3 linked regions of the Homo sapiens genome follow. The protein of the gene in region 1 purifies or fractionates together with the protein of each later gene. This does not show direct contact. Each region holds a gene or a part of one and is shown in the gene's direction. Other genes may lie near its edges.

What was found.
Region 2: the proteins of CCDC172 (region 1) and CCDC122 purify together in Homo sapiens (affinity purification with mass spectrometry; 2 studies listed by BioGRID and IntAct, with this or other methods). This does not show direct contact.
Region 3: the proteins of CCDC172 (region 1) and NINL purify together in Homo sapiens (affinity purification with mass spectrometry; 2 studies listed by BioGRID and IntAct, with this or other methods). This does not show direct contact.

What each region holds. Positions count from the first base shown.
Region 1 is NC_000010.11:116,341,350-116,348,460, forward strand, and holds part of CCDC172 (coiled-coil domain-containing protein 172), read left to right. Parts: intron 1-686; coding exon 687-852; intron 853-7,111.
Region 2 is NC_000013.11:43,855,659-43,862,769, reverse strand, and holds part of CCDC122 (coiled-coil domain-containing protein 122), read left to right. Parts: intron 1-2,699; coding exon 2,700-3,098; intron 3,099-3,872; coding exon 3,873-3,989; coding exon of another isoform or gene 3,990-4,037; exon of another isoform or gene 4,038-4,619; intron 4,620-7,111.
Region 3 is NC_000020.11:25,582,486-25,590,324, reverse strand, and holds the start of NINL (ninein-like protein), read left to right. Parts: upstream 1-4,793; 5' UTR 4,794-4,870; exon of another isoform or gene 4,871-5,674; coding exon of another isoform or gene 5,675-5,717; exon of another isoform or gene 5,718-5,736; coding exon of another isoform or gene 5,737-5,746; intron 5,747-7,839. UniProt on the Homo sapiens protein: Involved in the microtubule organization in interphase cells. Overexpression induces the fragmentation of the Golgi, and causes lysosomes to disperse toward the cell periphery; it also interferes with mitotic spindle assembly.

The sequences.
Region 1 (7,111 bases):
ACACACTTGGTGGTTTGAAATGACGTGGCCAGTTTGAAAATGAGGCTTAAAATTCATTGACATAGCTTAGAAAAATATGGTAATGTTTATATTCTAGCATTGTCAAAGAGTTTAGGTTTTTGCATTGTCCACAGTTTTTGGAAATTCTTATTTCTCTGCCATGTTGATACTTCATAAAATGTAAACTATTATTTAAAACTGATTTTGAAGTGAATATATAATTTTGATTTCATCATCCACATTTTAAAAGGTTTTCTTGGCTATCCTTGTTTGTTTGTTTGTTTTCCTGTAAGGCAGTAATCCCTTTAAGTGTAAATTTTAGTTTTTCAGTTTGGCCATTTAATTACTTTACTCTCCAGTTTTATATTATAATTATAAAATGTAATATGATTCTGAATTTTAATACACAAATAAACAGATATAATGATGAGTGGTAGAATATCTACCTCAATAATTCTCCCAAAACTTTAAGATTAAATCTTTCATCTGAAGATAGTTGTTACTATATAATAGCTTCAGTTTTTTATTAATATTACTATGAGAAAAAAACATTTTTGCCATAAAACCAGGAAGTGTAACTATATACTTTCATTGTTAATAATTCCAAATTATTATATTTTAAATAATTAAGGAAAAATATTATTGCAACTAACACCTATATTTGATCTTTTATTTATGTTTTTCAGGAGGCTATAAAGAAACAAATGATAGAGGAGGAAGACAAATTTATTAAGGAAATTACAGACTTTAATAATGATTATGAAATAACAAAGAAAAGAGAGCTTTTGATGAAAGAAAATGTCAAGATTGAAATATCTGACTTAGAAAACCAAGCAAACATGTTGAAAAGTGGTATGAATAAATATCACCTCATTTGTCTTGCATTAATGAAAATAACTTATTTTGAATGAATGAATTTTCCAAAAATTTAACTTTTTCATGAGCAAATTGGGTTATTGCATAGCGATTCTTTTACTTTTATTGATTTAATGAAGATGTATCTTCTATTGTGAGCAGTTTCAAATGATTTAGAAGTACATGTGACATGAACATTTGGTCATTCATTTAATAAATAAATATCTGTTATGTGATAGGCACTGTTCTAGGTCTTGAAGATATAACAATAAAAAGTGGAGGAAGAAAATATGTAAGCAGACATTTACAGCACATTGTGATGGAAGCTACAGTAGGGGTTAGGATTGGTGCCCTAATCCTCTAACAATCCAGGAGAAGCTAGGAATAAGTTTACACAGTGGAGTGGAGAGAGTTTTATTTCAGGAACACTAGTGAAGGTTTGGGTCTGTGTCCCCATGCAAATGTCGTGTCAAATTGTAATCCTTAATGTTGGAGGTTGGGCCTGGTGGGAGGTGATTGGCTCATGGGGGCAGGTTTCCCCTTTGGTGCTATTCTCATGACATTGAGTGAGTTATCATGAGATTTGGTTGTTTAAAAGTATGTAGCACCTCCTGCTTCTCTCTGTTCTTCCTGCTCTGGCCATGTAAGATGTTCCTGCTTCCCCTCTGCCTTCCACCACGATTTTAAGTTTTCTGAGGCCTCCCCAGCCATGCTCCCTCTATAGCTTCCAGAACCATGAGCTAAGTAAATCTCTCTTCTTCTTCTTCTTCTTTTTTAATAAATTACCCAGTCTCGGGTAGTTCTTTATAGTAGTGCAAGAATGGACTAATACAACTAGTATGTGGGTTATTGCAATCTTTGATAAGATCCTGAATTAAAGCAGTTGCCAAGTAGGGAAAGTCAAGGATAAATCAGTTTTCAAACTTCAGAGATTCTATTATAGCATTAGCTTAATGTCCAGTATTTCCTCATCTAAACTAGGTTCAATTGCACATGAGGCTCCTTGGATGTAGTTGCTTATGTAACTCCTTGAGTACATGTCCTCTTGATCTGAAGACCTCAGCCAAAGAAACAGTTGCCCTTCATATTCCCAATATACTATGGTGAGATAGGCATAGGATAATCACTAGTGATACTTCTGTTCAGAAAGCAGAAAAACTGGAGTCATTGTTATATAGCAATTCTGAAATTGAGCCAGGCAAGTATTGGACATTCCTTGATTAGGACTCAGTCATCCTCCCTCCTGGGAATGATTCCCCATGACTCTTGACACTACTCTCTGTGCTCCTATTTCCCTTCTCTGATCATTCGTTTTTTTTTTTTTTTTTAAAAAAATATATATAAAAGATAGCTTGCATTTGCAATTGTCCTGTGCCTGCTTCCATTCTGTAAAAGTTGCGTATCATTCCTTTTTTTTACTGCCTCTGTCCATTTCAGTCCAAGCTCACTGTGTTCATGTAAATACAGTGCTCTTAAAAACTTTGTGGGTCTCACGTGAATCCTACTGAGGCTCACTTCATTAGGGAAAAGCCACAACTACAAATTTCTTTGAGATAAGCCCTTTTATACTTTGGCCTTTTGCTAAAACTACTGAGACAATATTCTTAAACTTCTTGGCCCTATACTTTGACTGAATGGTTCTCTGAGGCATCACCTTGGATTTTTCTGAGGTTTTAGGAAAGGCTTTTTAATTCACATGCTAGATTTAGTCTTTATGATTTCTTAAGAATATTGGATTTTTTTCTTTACCCTCAAGACATTTCTTAGTGGTGAGAATGAAGACAGGGAGGGCATCTTGTAGTAAGGCTACCAAAGTTGTTTATTTTAATTCCAGAACAACCATTAAGGAAATAATCCAAAAACAAATAGCTAAAAGGACAATATAGAAATTAAAATACACATTTAATCTGAAAGAAAGTGGGAAAGGGAAAGAGGGGAACAAAAACACAGAACAGACAGAAAACTAATAATAAAATGATACACTTGAATCCATTTGCAATCATGCATCACTTTAATAATGGGGATATGTTCTGAGAAATGCATTCTTAGTCAGTATCATCGTGTGAACATCATAGATTGTACTTACACAAACCTGGATGGGATAACCTATTACACACCTGGGCTATATGGTATAGCCTATTGCTCCTAGGCTGTAAGCCTGTACTCAATGTTACTATACTGAAGACTGTAGGCAGTTGGAACACAATGGCAAGTATTTGTCTACCTAAACATATATAAATCTAGAAAAGGTACAGCAAAAATACAGTATAAATGATTTTAAAAATCTCTATAGGGCACCTTTATAGGGTATTTACCATGAATGGAGCTTGTAGAGCTGGAAGTTGCTCTGGGCGAGTCAGTGAGTGAATGGTGTGTGAATGTGGAGGCCTAGAACATTACTGTATGCTACTGTAAACTTTATAAACACTGTGTATTTAGGCTACACTAAGTTTGTAAAAAGAATTTTTCTTCCAAAGTAAATTAACATTAACTTCAGCTTACTGTAACTTTTTTACTTTATAAACCTTTTATTATTTTTGACTCTTCTAATAACACTTAGTTTAAAACACATGTTGTATGAATATACAAAAAATTTTTTTCTTTGTATCCTTATTCTACAACTTTCTTCTATCTTAGAAATTATTTTTTTACTTGAAACTAAAAAAAAAAAAAAAAACCTAAAACACAAACATGCACATTAGGCTTACACAGAGTCAGTATCACAATATCACTGTCTTCCACCTCTACATCTTGTCCCACTGGAAGGTCTTCAGGGACATGGAGCTATCATCTTCTATGAGAACAATGCCTTTGTATATGGAAATACAAATGACTTACAAAATCAAAACAATTTTAAAAAGAATAAAATTTAAGGATTTATATTCTGTGATTTCAAAATTTACTCAAATTCTATAGTAATCAAGATAATGTGTCACTGCCTTAAAAATAGGCATATAAATAGCTGGAACAGAAGAGTCCAGAAATAGAAATGCATATTGTCAACTGGTTTTCAACAAAGATGGAAAGGCAGTTCAGTGGGAAAAGGAAAGTATTTTCAATAAGTGGTGCTAGAAGAATTGGACATCCATTGCAAAACAATGATCCTTAACTCTTCACACCGTATTATAAATTAACTCAAAATAGGCATACACCTAGACACAAAAGCTAAAATTATGAATTTCCTAGAAGAAAACATAGGAGAAAATCTTTTCCATCTTGGAATAGGCAATGATTTCTTAGATGGGACACAAGAATCATGAACCGTAAAAAGAAAAACAGATTTAAAATAAATTGAAAAGACACTTAAGAAAATTAGAAGACAGACAACAGTCTTGGAGAGAATATTTGCATTAAATATATCTTCCAATGTACTGTTATCCAGAACATAATGAACTCTAACAACTTAAAAAATAAGAAAGGCAAAAAGCCAATTATAAAAGGGAAAAAAGTTGAACTTCACAATAGAGTACTAATGGCCAATGAACATGTGAAAAGATACTCAATATCTTTAGTCATTTGGAAAATACAAATTAAAACGGCAGTGATATATCACTGTATATCCACTTAATTAAAGTTAAAAAGACTGACCATACCAAACGTTGCTGAGAATGTGGAGCATCTGATACTCATATGGTAGTGATGGGAATGTAAAATTAATGGTACAATCACTTTAGAAAATTGTTTTGCAGTTTCTTAACAAGCTAAATGTACATTTACCATACAGCCCAGCCACTCCACAATGAGATACTCCAGAGAGATGAAACCTATATCCTAACGTTTTGGCAGTTTTATTCACAGTAGTCAAAAATTGAACATAACTTAAATGTCCGTTAAGAAGTGAATGGTTTCGGAGGCCGAGGTGGGCGGATCACAAGGTCAGGAGTTCAAGACCAGCCTGGCCAACATAGTGAAACCCCGTCTCTACTAAAACCAAAAAATTAGCCGGGCGTGGTGTCGGGCACCTGTAATCCCAGCTACTCAGGAGGCTGAGGCAGAAGAATGGCTTGAACCCAGGAGGCGGAGGTTGCAGTGAGCCAAGATCGCGCCATTGCACTCCAGCCTGGGTGACAGAGTGAGACTTCGTCTCAAAAAAAAAAAAAAAAAAAAGGAAGTAAATGGTTAAACAAAATTGACATATCTATGCAACGGAATACTTGGCAATAAAAATGACTAATTCTACTGATGCACTACATGGACCTATTTCAAAATAATATGATGATTAAAAGAAGCTAGACACATGCAAACTAACGTAAAGCCATGGCAAGCAGATCAATGGTTGCCTGGGTCAAAATGAATGAACTGTGAAGGGTCACAAATAATCTTTTGGGTTGATAGAAATGTACAGTTTCTTGCCTGTGGGTGTTTCATAGGTGTCAGTGACTGTCAAAAGTCATGAAATTGTATGCTCTAAATGAATATACTTTATGTAAATTATTCCTCTTTAAAATTAAGAAAAAAAAAAGTCCCTGATATCACAGATGCTATTGGAGCCCTCTAGTTTAGTTCTCTTTTTCTAGAAATATGGATTTATTTTAAAAGATTTGTTTTCAGAGTACCTGATATTGTTGATTTTTTATTCTTTCAGAAAGTCTGTTTCTAGGTATTTCATAACATTTTCATATAAAACTTTAATCTTTTTAATAGCAGGGACTTTATTTTGATTAATGTGCTGGCCCCAACAGTATGAATGAGATAATAATAAATTGATGACTGCTTCAAAAGGAGAAGCACAAGATGATATGAGAACATATATAAGTAGACTTAAACTGGACTAGGAAGTTAAGGAAGATTTCCCTGAACAAGTTGCCTTCAGAGTGAGGTCTGAAGAATGATACTGATTAGCCAAGTGAGAGATTTGAGTGTAGATGTCAATTAGATAGTTGTAATTTAAGTCAAGAGCTCAGAGATAGTTCTGGGCTAGAGCTATTAAATTTTGGGACTCACCTAGAGAGAATGTATTGAAAGAAAATGGACAGTACCCTGCAGAACCTCAGGATTTTCAAAAACTTGAGTGAAGAGTCTAAGACGGCTTCATGAAAGATGGGCAGAACACGTTACTGAGTGGAGTTGACATCACCTAGGGAGAGAGTATTTGAAGGCATGATCAACCCATGTTGATTGCTGCTGAGCTGTCAACTAGAATAAGGACTAAGAAGCAGCAATCAGAGGTCATTGGTGGCCTTCAGGAAAGGGAGCAGATTGAGGTAATAAGCAGGGCAAAAGCCAAATTGTAAGGAGTTGAGCAGAAGGAAGAGCAGAAATGGGATATCTATTAATAAAATTCATTACATTAATAGATTACAGTTGGAAAAGCATATGATTGTTTTTAAAAAGGCGATGTAGAGGGAAGGAGGGAAAAATGGTGGAGGAGAGGTGAAAGGAGAGGAAGAAGGAGAGGGAGAGCTTCACTCTGACATCATGATTAACAATGAAACTCTAGAAGTATTTCCATAAAAGTTAGTAATAAGGGAGGGTATCCAATATCATCACTATTATATAACAGTGTTCTAAAAGTATCAGCCAGTAAAATTAGAAACACAGTAAATATTGGAAAACAAAGACAAAATTGTCATTAGTTGAAGCTGATACAACTTGATTTCACTGGGTTTTCTATGTTTAGTTGCATCCTCCACCATTCTTCCCTCCCTCCCACTACATCTCCTTTTTGAGACATTCATATTTCCAACTGTAATCTATTGATGTAATAAATTTTATTTATATATATCCTATCACTAACCTTACTTAGCTGTGCACTCTTAGTCTTCTAATGTATTACTGAATTTTATTTGATAACATCTTCTTTAAGATTTTTGCATCAGTATATGTGAGATTCATCTTTGTGTGTGTATTATGTTGATTTCACAAAAAGCATACTGACGCTTTTTTCTTTCTCTGCTTGGAAAAATGTACGTACTATAATTATCTATTCCTTCAGGGTTCAAAAGAATTAACCTATGAAACGGTTTGTGGCAACTCTTCTTGGTGGTGGTGGTGGTGGAGAAAGAAGTTGTTCAAATTTTAAGCAGATATTAGAGCTGTTGACTTCCCAGAGCAGTTTAGCTTCCATTTGTCTTCTTACCTGTCAGTGTTTGCTCTTCCATTCCCACTTCTAATTCGTGCCACCACATCTGTTATTTTCTGGCATTTGACTTTTCTCCTCTTTCTTCCTTCATTCTGACCTTGCCCACTGAGCTTTTAGCCCATAACTATGATTAGTCAGCCAGTTTCATTGGGTTTTGAATAATCTCCATTTTTA
Region 2 (7,111 bases), on another chromosome or scaffold:
AGAGTTGATAGATAGCCTGATGTAACCAGCAGGGCATATGTCCCTTTCCTGACCATTGGTTGTGCATCAGTCATTCACTCATTTATTGAATGAATTTATTTATTTATTGAGCACCTACTTTGTGTCAGTTACTGTTTTAAGCAGTGGGAAGATGGTGGTAATGAAGACAGACATGGTTCCTGTAGCCACAGAGCTTACTTTCTAGTCAGGGGAAGCAAGCAATAAATTAACAAAATAAAGATAATTCAAAGATTGATGTATTACAAAGGAAATACAATGGGGTAATGTGTAGAGAGTAACTAGAGGAGGAGTGGAATAGTGGTTGGTTCATTTATATTTTGATTTAGGGAAGACTCTTCTGAGACATAATAATAATACTGAATTGTGAAAGACAAAGACCCAACAGATAATAGCCAGGGGTAGAGAATTTTAAAGTAGACCAAACAATAATTTAAAAAGCCGTTAGGTCGGAAGGAACTATACATATTTAATCAACACAAAGGAGACTGGAAAAAGGGAGAGTAGTAGATGAGAAGCATAGCAAAGTAGATAGGCACTAGGGCATATATGGCTTATAAAACACTTTCAGGAATTTGAAATTTTTTATTAATGCAATGGGAAACCACTGGAGGATGTTGAGCAGGGAAATAACATGATATGATTTATGTTTTGAAAAGATTCTTCTGCCTGATATACACAGACTAGTTGGGGGAGTGGGGAGGAACGGAAATAGGGAGATGAGTTAGACATTAGGTCACACTACAAAGACTGGTCAGAAGTGCATTGGGGATTTTATTTTGGAGGCCCAACCATCAGGATTTGATGAGAAATAGGTTGTGGGGGTAAGGGAAAGGGAAGAATCAAGAATGATTTCTAGGCTTTTGAGTATCCAGGTGGAAAGTGGTACAGTTTATTGAAATCAGAAAGTCTGGGGGAGGAATATGTTTGGTGTGTAAATTAAACTTTTTTTCTGAATATGTATAGTTGAGATGTCTGGTAAACATACATATAAAAATGTCAAGTGAGCATTTGAAACATCAGAGCTGATGATAAAAATTGAGGTTCATTGCCATATTGTATTTTTCAGTGAACTTACCTCCTTTTTCTCTGCCAGGAAAAGGATACAAGGAAGTTTGCATTTTTTAAAACAATGCCCTCTAACATTACAAATTTACTTAAAAAGAATGACCATAGTAGATAAGAAGAGGACTATGGAGGATGGCCTACAGAGTTATTTTGGTGGGAAGATCTACAGAATTTGAGAAACATTTAGACAGTTATTTAAAAGAAGGGAAGAGCTAAGGTGGTAACATTAACTAAGTTGGGGAACATAGGAGTGTGATCATTTGCATTTTTGGTCCCAGTTTTTCATCCGTTAGTCTATCCGTACCCTTTGCCATACATTACAATGCTTTCCCATAATGGATGGACACACTTCCACCCCTTGACTCTGGGTTTGATTATGTAACTAGCTGGGGTGTTATCAGTTGTGACTGAAACAAAAGCTTTAAAAAACTCTTCCATAACTGAATTTCACTCTTCTGCATCTATTATTATCATAAGACATGCCTGGGTTGGCCCATTGGAGGAGAAGATACACATAAAGCAAAGCCAAGACACCCCTGTCAGCCCAGTTAAAGCCAATTTAAATCATCTTACAATCAGCCAATCCCCAGACACTTGGGCAGATTCAATCAAGATCAGCAGAACCACCTAGCCAACCCTTGCTTCTCCCAGGCTTATGAACTACCTAGCCAACCTCAGCTGCTCCTAGTCATGTCAGCAATATATACTTATGTATTGTTGTATGCTACTGAGGTTTTGTGATTCTGGCAACAGATAATTGATACAAGGAGTAATAGGCTGAGGTTGTAGAAAGGATTCATTCAATTTTTGGATATAGTGAATTAGAGGTGGCCATTGGCAGCTGGGTGTAGAACTCAGCAGCCACTTATATTCTGTGAATCATCGGCAGATATGTAGCTGAAGATGTAAATTTGGGTGAAATTACCCAAGGAGCATATATAGAGAGTGAGAAGAGGAAATTATGATGACTGAAATCTGCAGAAGACCTATATTTGAAGGAACTGTTGAGATTGAGAAGGAATTCTCAGAAATTTCTAAGGAGAACCAGAAGACTGGTGGTGTGAAAACTAGGCTTTAAAAAGAAGGCAGCAGTTAGCAATGCAAAATGCCCCAGGGAGGCAAAGTAAATATCTTTATACTCATTTTACAAATGGAGAAAGTGTAGTTTGAATGGGGTAATTAAGTTTGTTATGCATGATCATACGAAGTAGTAAATAGCAATAAGTGTGCTGGACCTAGATCTTTTGATTCTTAACTCAGGGCTTTATCATTTTTTATCATATTGTCTTCCCTGAGTGTATACTTCTGATGCCTATAAATAAATTAGTAAAATTATTATAAAGTATCTTACATATATAAAATGTCAAGATAAAACAATGAGATTTTAATATTTAGAATTAGATGAACATTAAAAAATATATAACTGAGGTCCTTCTGAAATTATAAAATAATTGTGTTTATTGCATGTTTCCTTGTATTCATTAATTTTTAAATATCTGATAAATATATTCTTATAAGTGATTTTTCCTATATTCATTATGGATTAAAACATTGATTTTCCTCTCATGTTTAATATTTTGAATTAATAATGATAATGTTAAAATGTATTACAGAATGAACTTCATGAGCTTGAAAAAGAAATAGCAGCTATCTCTGCAGAAACTAAAGAAACAGAAAGACAAATTTATCAACAAGATTCTGCCATAGAGAATACCAAACTTCATTGTGATAGCCTGGAAACTCAAATCAAATCCTTACATTCAGAAAATGTAAAGCTTAAATTTGACATAGAAACAGCCCAAGAAGATTTTGAGGAACACATGATAAAATATAATGCATATTATGCAAAAATAAAAGCACATAAAAATAGTTTGGGGGAAGTAGAGAGCAAATGGTCATTTATGACTGAACTCCATGAAAAGCGAGATTTTGTTAAAAAATTAAAGACAATGAAAGAAGAACTTATGCAAGATCTTCAAAATCCAGGAGGGAACCGAATAACACAAGTACAGGTGTGCAAAATTACTTAGTAAAACTATTTTTTCTATTACTCCTTTTTTGCAAGTACATACATTAAATGATAAATTTATTGTGAAGTTAATAAAATGCCCATAGCTGTCCTATTACCTTCAGAAACTATTTTCATAATTGAAAAAAACTTGGAATAAGTACATGTGTTATATAACAACGACCCTAGATGCTCAAATGCATAAAGGAAACATCCACAAATCCCCTGTAGATTTATAAAACTACATGGTCAAATAAAATCACAGTGAACAATTAATCCATTTGTTGTAGAAAATGTAATTCACAAAAATGTTAAAGACTTAGCTTCTATGCCAATGGATCCAGACCAATTCAAATCAATTTAGTACACTTAATGGTGTTATGCAAGCAATATAAATTAATAACTGAACCTTAAGCATCTTACTATTTCTCTTACTGTTCTTTGAAGACGATAGAAGACACAAACTTAAAATATTGATCATTTCTTGCTAGAGAATTAAAAAGTGTCTTTTACACTGTTGTTCGGCAGTTGCCACCATAACTACCACTTTCCTTTTTGTCTTATTTTCATTTGGTTTTTAGTTCTGTGTCAAATGTAAGGTTTCTTTGAGTAACAGTTCTTTATTTTTGTATACGTATAGAAGTAATATTCTAATGCTATTTATCAAAACTAAATTTTGATTTGGCTAGTTTTCTTAAATTATAGAAACACTGAAAAATTGGATTTATATTGATCATCCTTTTTTGACTTCTATATTTCAAATGTTGTCAACATACAGGAAGACATTACAAACTTAAAGGATAAAATTATAACTGTAAAAGAATCTATCATTGAAAAAACTTGTTTTCTTGAGGAAGAAAAAAAGACACATGAAAAATTAAGAAAAGAAATAGAGGTAAGTCTTAATTATCTAGATTTCAATGTTTTATGGGACCATTTTTAAAACTTAACACTATATTCATATTTCCATAGTTTACTCTCAATACTCAAAACAGTTGAAGAACAAGAAAGAACTATAAAATTTAGTAAATACAAATCATTAATAGATAACTAGAGATAACCCCCTCATTCAAAGATGTTCAAATATGTGAATGTGTTCAAACAATGCAAGCATTCACTCCTATTTAAATCTGGGCGAGGGTTCTTCCAGGTTTTTCTCATTCCACTAAGAACATGATACCCAATTAATGGCTAGAAAGCAGCTATGTAGTCAAAGAGGATGCCCATTCTTAGATATCAAAGACTCCTCAAAATAGAATAAAACACAATGGAAAGCATCGTCTTTCCAAACCTCTCTGACTTCATATTCGCAATTATCAAGAGTCAAGTTAAAAAAACAAACTGAAAATATGCAAAATTGAAAGTCAGAGTAAATTCATAATGTGTTGTGGTGCTGCCTGTGGACTTCTATTGTCATTATTGTTTGGATGAATGGTGAACAGAAATGTAAAATAATATGCTATTAAGGGCAAATAATTTTTGCCTGAATACATTAATTTGGAAAATAAAAATATGCATGTTTCAACTTGTTTTTGACTAATTTGACACAATACAAAGCATCTGAGGAAATTAAAGATAAAAATCCTCATCTTTACATATTCGCTATTAAAAAATATCACGATTTTACCTTTTAGTTTACTAGGAATCTAAATAACGATTCTTTTTGCCCTTGTAGACATTAAGGTTCATTATAAAACAATAAATAGTAAGACAGTGTATCAGTGGTAAAAGAGTAGAAAAAAATATTATTATTATTATTTTTTCTTTATTTTTGAGACGGAGTCTTGCTCTGTCACCCAGACTGGAGTACAGTGGTGCGATCTCAGCTCACTGCCGCCTCGGCCTCCCGGGTTCCAGCGATTTTCCCATCTCAGCCTCCCAGATAACTGGGATTACAGGCACGTACCACAATGCCCAGCTAATTTTTGTATTTTTAGTAGAGATGGGGTTTCACCATGTTGGCCAGGCTGGTCTCAAACTCCTGACCTCAGGTGATCCGCCTGCCTCGGCCTCCCAAAGTGCTGGGATTACAGGCGTGAGCCACCACACCCGGCCAGAAAAAAATTATTAATGAAAAAAAGAATCCAGAAATTATGCATCCTTGAGTGGTAAAAACAAAATAGATTACCTCTATGGAAAAATAAAGAAAAATGTTGAAATAAAACTGGATTCCTACCTCATAATACACACGTGCACACACACACACACACACACACACACACACACTTCTAAGTATTGAATACAACATAGGATAAAAACTTAAAAATTTGTGTCAGAAAAGCATTTATTTTAAAAGAGAAAAACACTCCATAAATTCTGTGGTTAAATATCTTTAGTTTTGACTATGCCATAAATTTCCAGATTATGGGAATATACCATCACAAGAGAAAGAACAAGACTCCATTCTAGATTATTATAACACATGTATGTGATAAGAAAGAGATAAGAAAATGTCAAATCAGTGAAACATTGGGCAAATGGTATAAAAAGACCATTTTTCTGAACCATGAATATCAGAAATAAAGAAAAATATGACCATCCTCATTAGCAATAAGAGACTGATAATTAAAACCACAGCAAAGTTCCATGTTTAGCCCATCTGATTATCGGTATTACAGTTGGGAGATGTTGAGCGTGGGAATTTTAATACAGTATTCTTGTGAATGTAAATTGCTAAAAGCACTTTGGAAAGAAATGTGAAATTACCTTTTAATTTTTTTACAGTAACATATTTTATTGAGGTATAATTGTCATAAGAGTAAGTACACAAATTATAAATGGATGGCTTGATTTATTTAGACTAACATGTACATATATTTATGTTGGCATTACCTAGATCAAGATATAGAACTTTCCCAGCATGTCCAGAAAGTTCTCTTCTACCCTTTTTATCAAATAGCCACTATTCTGATTTTTATAAACAGCTTTACTAAGATAAAATTCACATACCATACAGTTCACCGATTTTTGTCAGATATCCTGCAACAAAGTTTTATACATGAAAACAAATTATTGAGAGATTTTTTCTTTTCTTTTTTTTTTTTTTGAGACAGAGTCTCGCCCCATCGCCCAGGCTAGAGTGCAGTAGTGCAATCTCGGCTCACTGCAAGCTCTGCCTCCCAGGTTCACGCCATTCTCCTGCCTCAGCCTCCGGAGTAGCTGGGACTACAGGCGCCTGCCACCACACCCAGCTAATTTTTTGCATTTTTAGTAGAGACGGGGTTTCACCATGTTAGCCAGGATGGTCTTGATCTCCTGACCTCATGATCCACCCGCCTCGGCCTCCCAAAGTGTTGGGATTACAGGCGTGAGCCACCGCGCCCAGCCTTAATTTAACTTTTAAGTTCAGGGGTATGTATGCAGGTTTGTTATATAGGTAAATTTCTGTCATAGTTTGTTGTACAGATTATTTCAATAGCCAGGTATTAAGCCTAGTACCCATTAGTTATTTTTCCTGATCCTTTCCCTCCTCTCACCCTCCAGTGTGTGTTGTTTCCCTCTATGTGTCCATAAGTTCTCATCATTTAGCTCCCACTTATAAGTGAGAACATCCAGTATTTGGTTTTCTGTTTCTGCATTAATTCACTTAGGATAGTGGCCTCCAGCTCCATTCATGTTCCTGCAAAGGACATAATCTCATTCTTTTTATGGCTGCATAGTATTTCATGGTGTATATGTACCATATTTTCTTTATCCAGACTACCACTGATGGGCATTTAGGTTGATTCCATGTCTTTGCTATTGTGAATATTGCTGCAATGCACTTACACGTGTATGTGTCTTTATGATAGAATGATTTATATTCCTTTGGGTATATAATCAGTAATGGGATTGCTGGGTTGAATGGGATTCTGTTTTTAAGTCTGAGGAATTGCCACACTGTCTTCCACAATGGTTGAACTAATTTACACTCCCACCAACAGTGTATAATAAGTGTTCTTTTTCTCTGCAACCTTGTCAGCATGTTTTTTGTTTGTTTGTTTGTTTTGTTTTATTTTTTTACTTTTTGATACTAGT
Region 3 (7,839 bases), on another chromosome or scaffold:
AAAAAAACAGGGATATGTAAGATGCTGATATTTACAGGACCTGAGTGAGAAGAATATGGAACCTCTCTTTTCTACGTTTCCAAGTTTTCTGTAAAGATAACATTAATTCAAAAGAAAAAGTTTTTTTTGTTGTTGTTTCTTTTTTTGTGAGACAGATTTTCGCTCTTGTTGCCCAGGCTGGAGTGCAATGGCGCGATCTCTGCTCACTGCAACCTCCACCTCCCAGGTACAAGCAATTCTCCTGTCTCAGCCTCCCAAGTAGCTCGGATTACAGGCACGCGCCACCATGCCCGGCTGTTTTTCTTTTGTATTTAGTACAGATGGGGTTTCACCAAGTTAGTCAGGCTGGTCATGAACTCCTGACCTCAGGTGACCCACCCACCTCGGCCTCTCCTGCGCCTGGCCAAGAAAATGTTTTTAAAAAGAAGAGCGATCAGGATGTGATGACGTCGCTGTAAGGTATGAGAGAGAGAGTCAAGATTGACTCAAAGGTTCTTTCCTGAACAATTGTGGTGTCAGGATATCCATTGGTTTTCATCCACAGTTACTGGCACATGACTCCCATAGCCCTTGCTACAGTCCTTTGTTATATTGTTGTGTTGGGCCTCATGGGCAGGCCCCTGACCTCCTCCTGGCTTTCTGATTGTGGGTCTTTTTTTTTTTTATTTTATTTTTAGATGGAGTCTCATTCTGTTGCCCAGGCTGGAGTGCAGTGGTGCGACCTTGGCTCACTGTAACTTCTTCGCATCCCGGGTTCAAGCGGTTCTCCTGCCTCAGCTTCCCAAGTAGCTGGGACTATAAGTGTGTGCCACCACGCCCAGCTAATTTTTGTATTTTTAGTAAATATGGTGTTTCATCATGTTGGCCAGGATGGTCTCGATCTCCTGACCTTGTGATCCGCCCACCTCGGCCTCCCAAAGTGCTGGGATTACAGGAGTGAGCCACCGCGCCCTGCCGTCGATTGCAGGTCTTAAGACTCTCCCATGAGAGGGTCTCACCCTATTCCCTGGGAGAAGGAATGCTGATATCATGAAGCTTTCATAAAACCCCAAGAGGACAGGGTTCAGTGAACTTCTGGGTAGGTGAACAGTGGAGGTTCCTGGAGGGTGGTGCCCAGGGAGGTATGGAAGCTCTGCCCCTTCCTCCAAACCTTGCCCTATGTGTCTCTTCACCTGTGTCCTTTACAATATCCATTATAATAAACCAGTGGGCCAGGCATGGTGGCTCACGCCTGTAATCCCAGCACTTTGGGAGGCCAAAGCAGGCAGATCACCTGCGGTCAGGAGTTCGAGACCAGCTTGGCCAACAGGACGAAACCCTGTCTCTACTAAAAATATAAAAATCTAGCCAGGTGTGGTGGCGCATGCCTGTAGTGCCAGCTTCTTGGGAGGCTGAGGCATGACAATCACTTGAACCTGGTAGGCGGAGGTTGCAGTGAGCTGGGATCGCACCACTGCACTCTAGCCTGGGCGACAGAGCAACACTCCGTCTCAAAAATAAATAAATAAAAATAAACCAGTGAACATAAGCGTTTCTCTGAGTTCTGTGAGCCACTCACAGGTAGCAAATTAATCGAAACCAAACAGGGGGTCAGGGGGTCATGGGAACCCCAACTTGAAGCTGATCTGTCAGAAGTTCTGCAGAGGCCCGGCCTTGCAACTGATGTATGTGAGGAGTCTTGGGGACTGAGTCCTCAACTTGTGGGATCTGACACTCTCTCCAGGTAGTGACAGAACTGAATTAGAGGATGCCCAGCTGGTGTCTGCTGCTCAGTGTGTGGAGAAAACCCCACACACATTTAGTCATAGGTCTTCTGTGTTGACTGTTGTGCGGTGTGAGAGTGGAGAGTTTTCTCTACACGACAATAAAATTGGAATGTCTGGAGGTAGGATGCAGGCACTGGTGTTTTTAATTTTTAAGTAGTCAAAGTGGAGAACTCCTAGTCTTCCCACTTCTCTCTGATGAAGAACCACTACATTAACTCATTTAAATTCGGTATGCTCAACTGGGCACGGTGCCTCATGCCTGCAATCTCAGTACTTTGGGGGGCCAAAGTGGGAGGATCATTTTAGCCCAGGAGTTCAAGACCAGCCTGGGCAACATAGACCCCATCTCTACAAAAAATTAGTAAGTTAGCCAGGTGTGGGGGTGCATCTGTAATGCAGCTATTTGGGAGGCTGAGGTGGGAGGATCACTTGAGCCCAGGAGATCAAGGCTGCAGTGAGCTGTGATCACACCACCACACTCCAGCCTGGGTAACAGACTGAGATCCTGTCTCAAGAAATAAAATAACAAATAAATTCAGTACACTCCTGTGCAATGGGTAATTTTTACATTTCTATTTTGCAAATGAAACTGAGATCACAGATGTTACATGACTGGGTGATCCACAGTCAAACAGCTAGTAAGTGGCATGATTCACATCTTCTGACTCCAAATTCATTCTCCAGCCAGTGAGTGGGAGCCCGTGCAGAGCATCAGGAGCACTGAAGAGAAGACATTCTTCACAATGGCAGCCCCCATGGCTCTGAGCACCCCTGGGAATCCAGGGTTATAAACTGGAGTCATCGGGGTCTTGGCTGCGCATCCCACAGGGACCACCTTTGCACGGTGTGTCCTGCCATTGTGCCCCACACTGGTTGGGACAGGTCATGGGCATAGCAAAAGGTATCTGGGCACATTCAGCAGGTCAGAGAAACCTCCCAGCCTAGAACACACTATGAGCGTCTCTGAACCACTCCCTGTGTTTGCCTTTTGCTCTGCATGGGGTTTAGCACTTGCAGGCACTTGGAAATTTCACTCGCCCTTGGAAACTCCGTTCCCCCATAGCCTGTCTTTCATCCTGCTTCCTTCTCACCCCATTTTGCCTCTGATCCTCACATCCTCTAAAGTGGAGTTCCTACAAAGTATATGCACCTTTCTCATGCTACAGTGTACTGTAGCTCATTTTGTAATTCTGATATAACTCTCTGACATTTTTGTATATTTATGTTTTTATTTTTATTTTTTGGAGACAGAGTCTTGCTCTGTCGCCCAAGCTGGAGTCTAGTGGCAAGATCTCAGCTCACTGCAACCTCCGACTCCTGGGTTCATGCAATTCTTGTGCCTCAGCCTCACGAGTAGCTGGGACTACAGGCGCGCGTTAACCACAACTGGCTAATTTTTTTGTGTTTCAGTAGACACTGGGTTTCACCATGTTGGCCACGCTGGTCTCGAACTCCTGTCCTCAGGCAATCTGCCCACAGTGGCCTCCCAAACTACTGGGATTACAGGCATGAGTCACCGTGCCTGGCTGTATTTACTTTTTTTTTTCTTTTTTTGAAATGGAGTCTCACTCTGTCGCCCAAGCTGGAGTGCAGTGGCTTGATAACCACAACCTCCGCCTCCCAGATTCAAGCGATTCTCCTGTCTCAGCCTCCTGAGTAGCTGGGATTACAGGCATATGCCATCACGCCCGGCTAATTTTGTATTTTTAGTAGAGACGGGGTTTCTCCATGTTGGTCAGGCTGGTCTTGAACTCCCGACCTCAGGTGATCCGCCTGCCTCAGCCCCCCAAAGTGCTGGGATGACAGGCATGAGCCACTATGCCCGGCCGGGTATTTACGTTTTTAAATTGTTTTCTGTGTAAACTCTATAAGGGCCAGGGATTTTTTGCACCGCTGTTGGCAGCCCCTAGGACAATGCCTGGCCCTAGTAGGTGTTCGATAAATATATACAGGTTGAATATCCCTTAACCGAGATGCTTGGCACCAGAAGCATTTAGGATTTCAGATTTTGGAATATTTGCATTATACCAATTGAACACCCCTAATCTGAAAATCCAAAATTAGAAATGCTCCAATGAGGCCAGGTGCGGTGGCTCATGCCAGTAATCCCAGCACTATGGGAGGCCAAGGTGGGAGGATCACTTGAGGCCAGAAATTCCAGACCAGCCTGGGCAACATGGTGAAGCCTCCTCTCTTAAAAAAATACAGGCCGGGCGCGGTGGCTCACGCCTGTAATCCCAGCACTTTGGGAGGCCGAGGCGGTGGATCCATCCCTTGAGCCTAGGAGTTCGAGACCAGCCTGGGCAACACAGTGAGACTCTGTGCTAAAAATACAAAAATTAGCGGACATGGTGGCAGATGCCTGCAGTCCCAGCTACTGGGGGTTGGGACGCTGAGGCGGGAGGATCGCCATAGCCGGGAAAGTCGAGGCTGTAGTGAGCCATGACCGCGCCACTGCATCCCAGGCTGGGCAGCAGAAGTGACAGCCTTTCTCAAAAGAAAAGAAAGTTAAAAGAAGAAAAAAGAAGTGCTCCAATGTGCATTTCCTTTGAGCATCAGGTCAGCGCTCAAAAACTTTCAGATTTTGAAGCATTTCGGATTTCAGATGTTTGGATTAGGGATGCTCAACCCGTATTGATTTAATATGCGGTGGAAACGTGACGACCTAGGTTTTAAGTCGCGGTTTCCTCAGTGGTGGGTTTGGGGTATTACCCCTGCCTGGCCGGCCTCCGGGCTTGTTTCCAGAAGATGCTACCCCGAGAGCTGCGAACCGCCAAGCTCCGCAGCGCGCAGGGCTCCGACAGGGACCAGCGAGGTCAGCTCCAAGGGTCACCCCAGGCTCCAAACTGGCCAGAGCCGCCCTGAGATTTGCGGAGGCCGCCTTGCCCCCACCCCGCCCCGCAATCCCGGACCCGACCCGCCCCCTCTCCCGTTCGCTCGCCCCGCCCCCTGTTCGCCCACTGCGCCGGGACACCGAGGGGGCGGTGCCTCGAGGCCGGGAGGAGTGTTGCGTCGCGGCCTCCAGACACAAAGAGCGGCCGGCGGTACGGGGGTGGTGCCGCGCTCCTGGCCCCGCGCGGGCGGACGGCGGAGGCGCCTCCCAGGTGAGCCGGCCCGGGCGTCCGGCGGGACATTCAGGCGGCTGGTGGGGTCGAGAGTCCGGGGCCGCCCCTGCGTCGCGACCCGCGCCTTAGTCACCAGACCCGGCTCCGGGAGCGCGGCCTCGGGTGCTCCTCGCGGTGCGGGGCGCAGACTCGGCGCATCTGCTGTGGTGCCTGCTCTTCCGGTCGCCCTCGAGGGCGGGGCGGGGGTCACGCCCTAAAATACAGCGCCCGCTGGGCCGAACGCTTGAAAACCCGGTTTCCCGACGGCGGCGGCGCGGGCGCCGTGCGAACGAGGGCCCGGGTCCAGCACAGCCCCAAGGCTCGGCCTGAGGCGGGCGGCCTTGGCCGGGGCCCCCCGTGGTAATGAGCTACGCGGTGCCCGCCGCCTGCCCAGCGCGGGCCGTTTCTCCTGACGCCGCCGGCGTCTGGTCGAGGCCCAGGATTCCCTCCTGCCAGTGTGGCTGCGGCCCCCCACGGAGCGGGACCCGCGTTCGTGGCGCTTGGGACGGTTGATTGAAAGGGTGTAGAAGTCTGTTGCGAATTTTATCTGTTGTACTCGTTTTGCAGATTCGCCCCTTTCCTCCCGCCTGTGCGCGCAGTCACACACACCATGTGGGAGTCTCTGATCGCGTTGGGTTCATAATCATCGATCGTGCCTGGGTACTGATGCCCCATTGTTAGGAGCTCTGTGTGGGGCTGTATGTTTGCACAGGACTCACGTGAGGAAGGGTGGCCACGTTTCTTTCTGCTCTGTGAGACTTAGGCCAAGCCCTGGAACTAGGGAGGAGGTTCAGGAAGAGACCCATGAAGCTGGCGGGGCCTTGGAGAAGGGCAAGTGATTTTCAAGGTCAGTAGTAAGAGGGGTCATGAGTAATGGTAAGTTTCTTAGCGGCCTTTGCTGTGACTTCTAGGTTTTTCACACTGGACTTAAAATACTTTTAAAAGCAGAGTTTTTGTTCTTCTTGTTGTTGTTCTTGTTGTTGTTGCTGTTTTTGAAACGAAGTTTCACTCTTGTTGCCCAGGCTGGAGTGCAATGGCGCCATCTCGGCTCACTGCAACCTCTGCCTCCCGGATTCAAGCGATTCTCCTGCCTCAGCCTCCCGAGTAGCTGGGATTACACGCCCAGCTAATTTTTTGTGTTTTTAGTGGAGATGGGGGTTTCACCATGTTGGCCAGGCTGGTCTCGAACTTCTGACCTTCAGGTGATCCAGCTGCCTCGGCCTCCCAAAGTTCTGGGATTACAGGCGTGAGCCACTGCACCCGGCCAAGTTTTTGTTTTGTTTTGTTTTTGTTTTTTAATTTTATTTTACTTTAAGTTCTGGGATACATGTGCAGAACGTTCTGGTTTGTTACATGGGTATACATGTGCCATGATGGTTTGCTGCACCTATCAACCCGTCATCTAGATTTTAAGCCCCACATACATTAGGTATTTGTCCTAATGCTCTCCCTCCTCTTGCCCCCCACCCGCCCCGACAGGTCCCGATGTGTGAGGTGTGTGATGTTCCCCTCCCTGTGTCCATGTGTTCTCATTGTCAACTCCCACTTATGAGTGAGAACATGCGGTGTTTGGTTTTCTGTTCTTGTGTTAGTTTGCTGAGAATGATGGCTTCCCACTTTATGCATGTCCCTGCAAAGGACATGAACTCATTCTTTTTTATGGCTACGTAGTATTCCATGGTGTATCTGTACCACATTTTCTTTATTCAGTCTATCCGTGATGGGCATTTGGGTTGGTTCCAAGTCTTTGCTATTGTAAATAGTGCTGCAATAAACATACACGTTTATGTGTCTTTATAGTAGAATGATTTATAGTCCTTTGGGTATATACCCAGTAATGGGATCACCGGGTCAAATGTTATTTCTGGTTCTAGATCCTTGAGGAATCGCCACACTGTCTTCCACAATGGTTGAACTAATTTACACTCCCACCAACAGTGTAAAAGCGTTCCTATTCCTCCACAGCCTCTCCAGCATCTGTTGTTTCCTTGCTTTTTAATAATTACCATTCTAACTGATGTGAGATGGTATCTCATTGTGGTTTTGATTTGCATTTCTCTAATGACCAGTGATGATGAGCTTTTTTTTTAATATATGTTGTTGGCTGCATAAATGTCTTCTTTTGAGAAGTGTCTGTTCATTTCCTTTGGCCACTTTTTGATGGGGTTGTTTTTTTCTTGTAAATTTGTTTAAGTTCCTTCTATATTCTGGATATTAGACCTTTGTCAGAAGGGTAGATTGCAAAAATTTTACCCCGTTCTGTAGGTTGCCTGTTCACTCTGAAGAGTTTCTTTTGCTGTGGAGAAGCTCTTAGGTTAGATCCCATTTGTCAGTTTTGGCTTTTGTTGCCATTGCTTTTGGTGTTTAGTCATGAAGACTTTGCCCATGCCTATGTCCTGAATAGTATTGCCTAGGTTTTCTTTTAGGTTTTTTATGGTTTTGGGTTTTACATTTAAGTCTTTAATCCATCTTGAGTTAATTTTTGCATAAGGTGTAAGGAAGGAGTCCAGTTTCTGTTTACTGCATATGGCTAGCCAGTTTTCCCAGCACAATTTATTAAATAGGAAATCCTTTCCCCATTGCTTGTTTTTGTCAGGTTTGTCGAAGATCAGATAGTTGTAGAAAGCAGAGTTTGTTTTTTTTTTAAGTAGTTAAAACTCATCTGTTAAACAGAACACTGAATCAGCAGCCTAGCAGTTTTATGAACTGTGTGCAAGAATGCTTGTATATTAAAAGGAAAATGTTCAGGTGTTAGAGAAGCAGTCTACTTTCATGCTTGTCCCTTTTGTTTGACTTATACATCATCCATTAGTGGTTTAAATGATGACAGATTGAATTGATCTGTATTGGCAAATAAAAGTGGGATGTGTGTTTATGTAAAGTTCAGGTGCAATAAAAATTAGAGGATAACTCTTTTTTGTAGAATGAGAAAATAGCAAGCCTTCTCCAAGGAACTTGGACTTCAGATT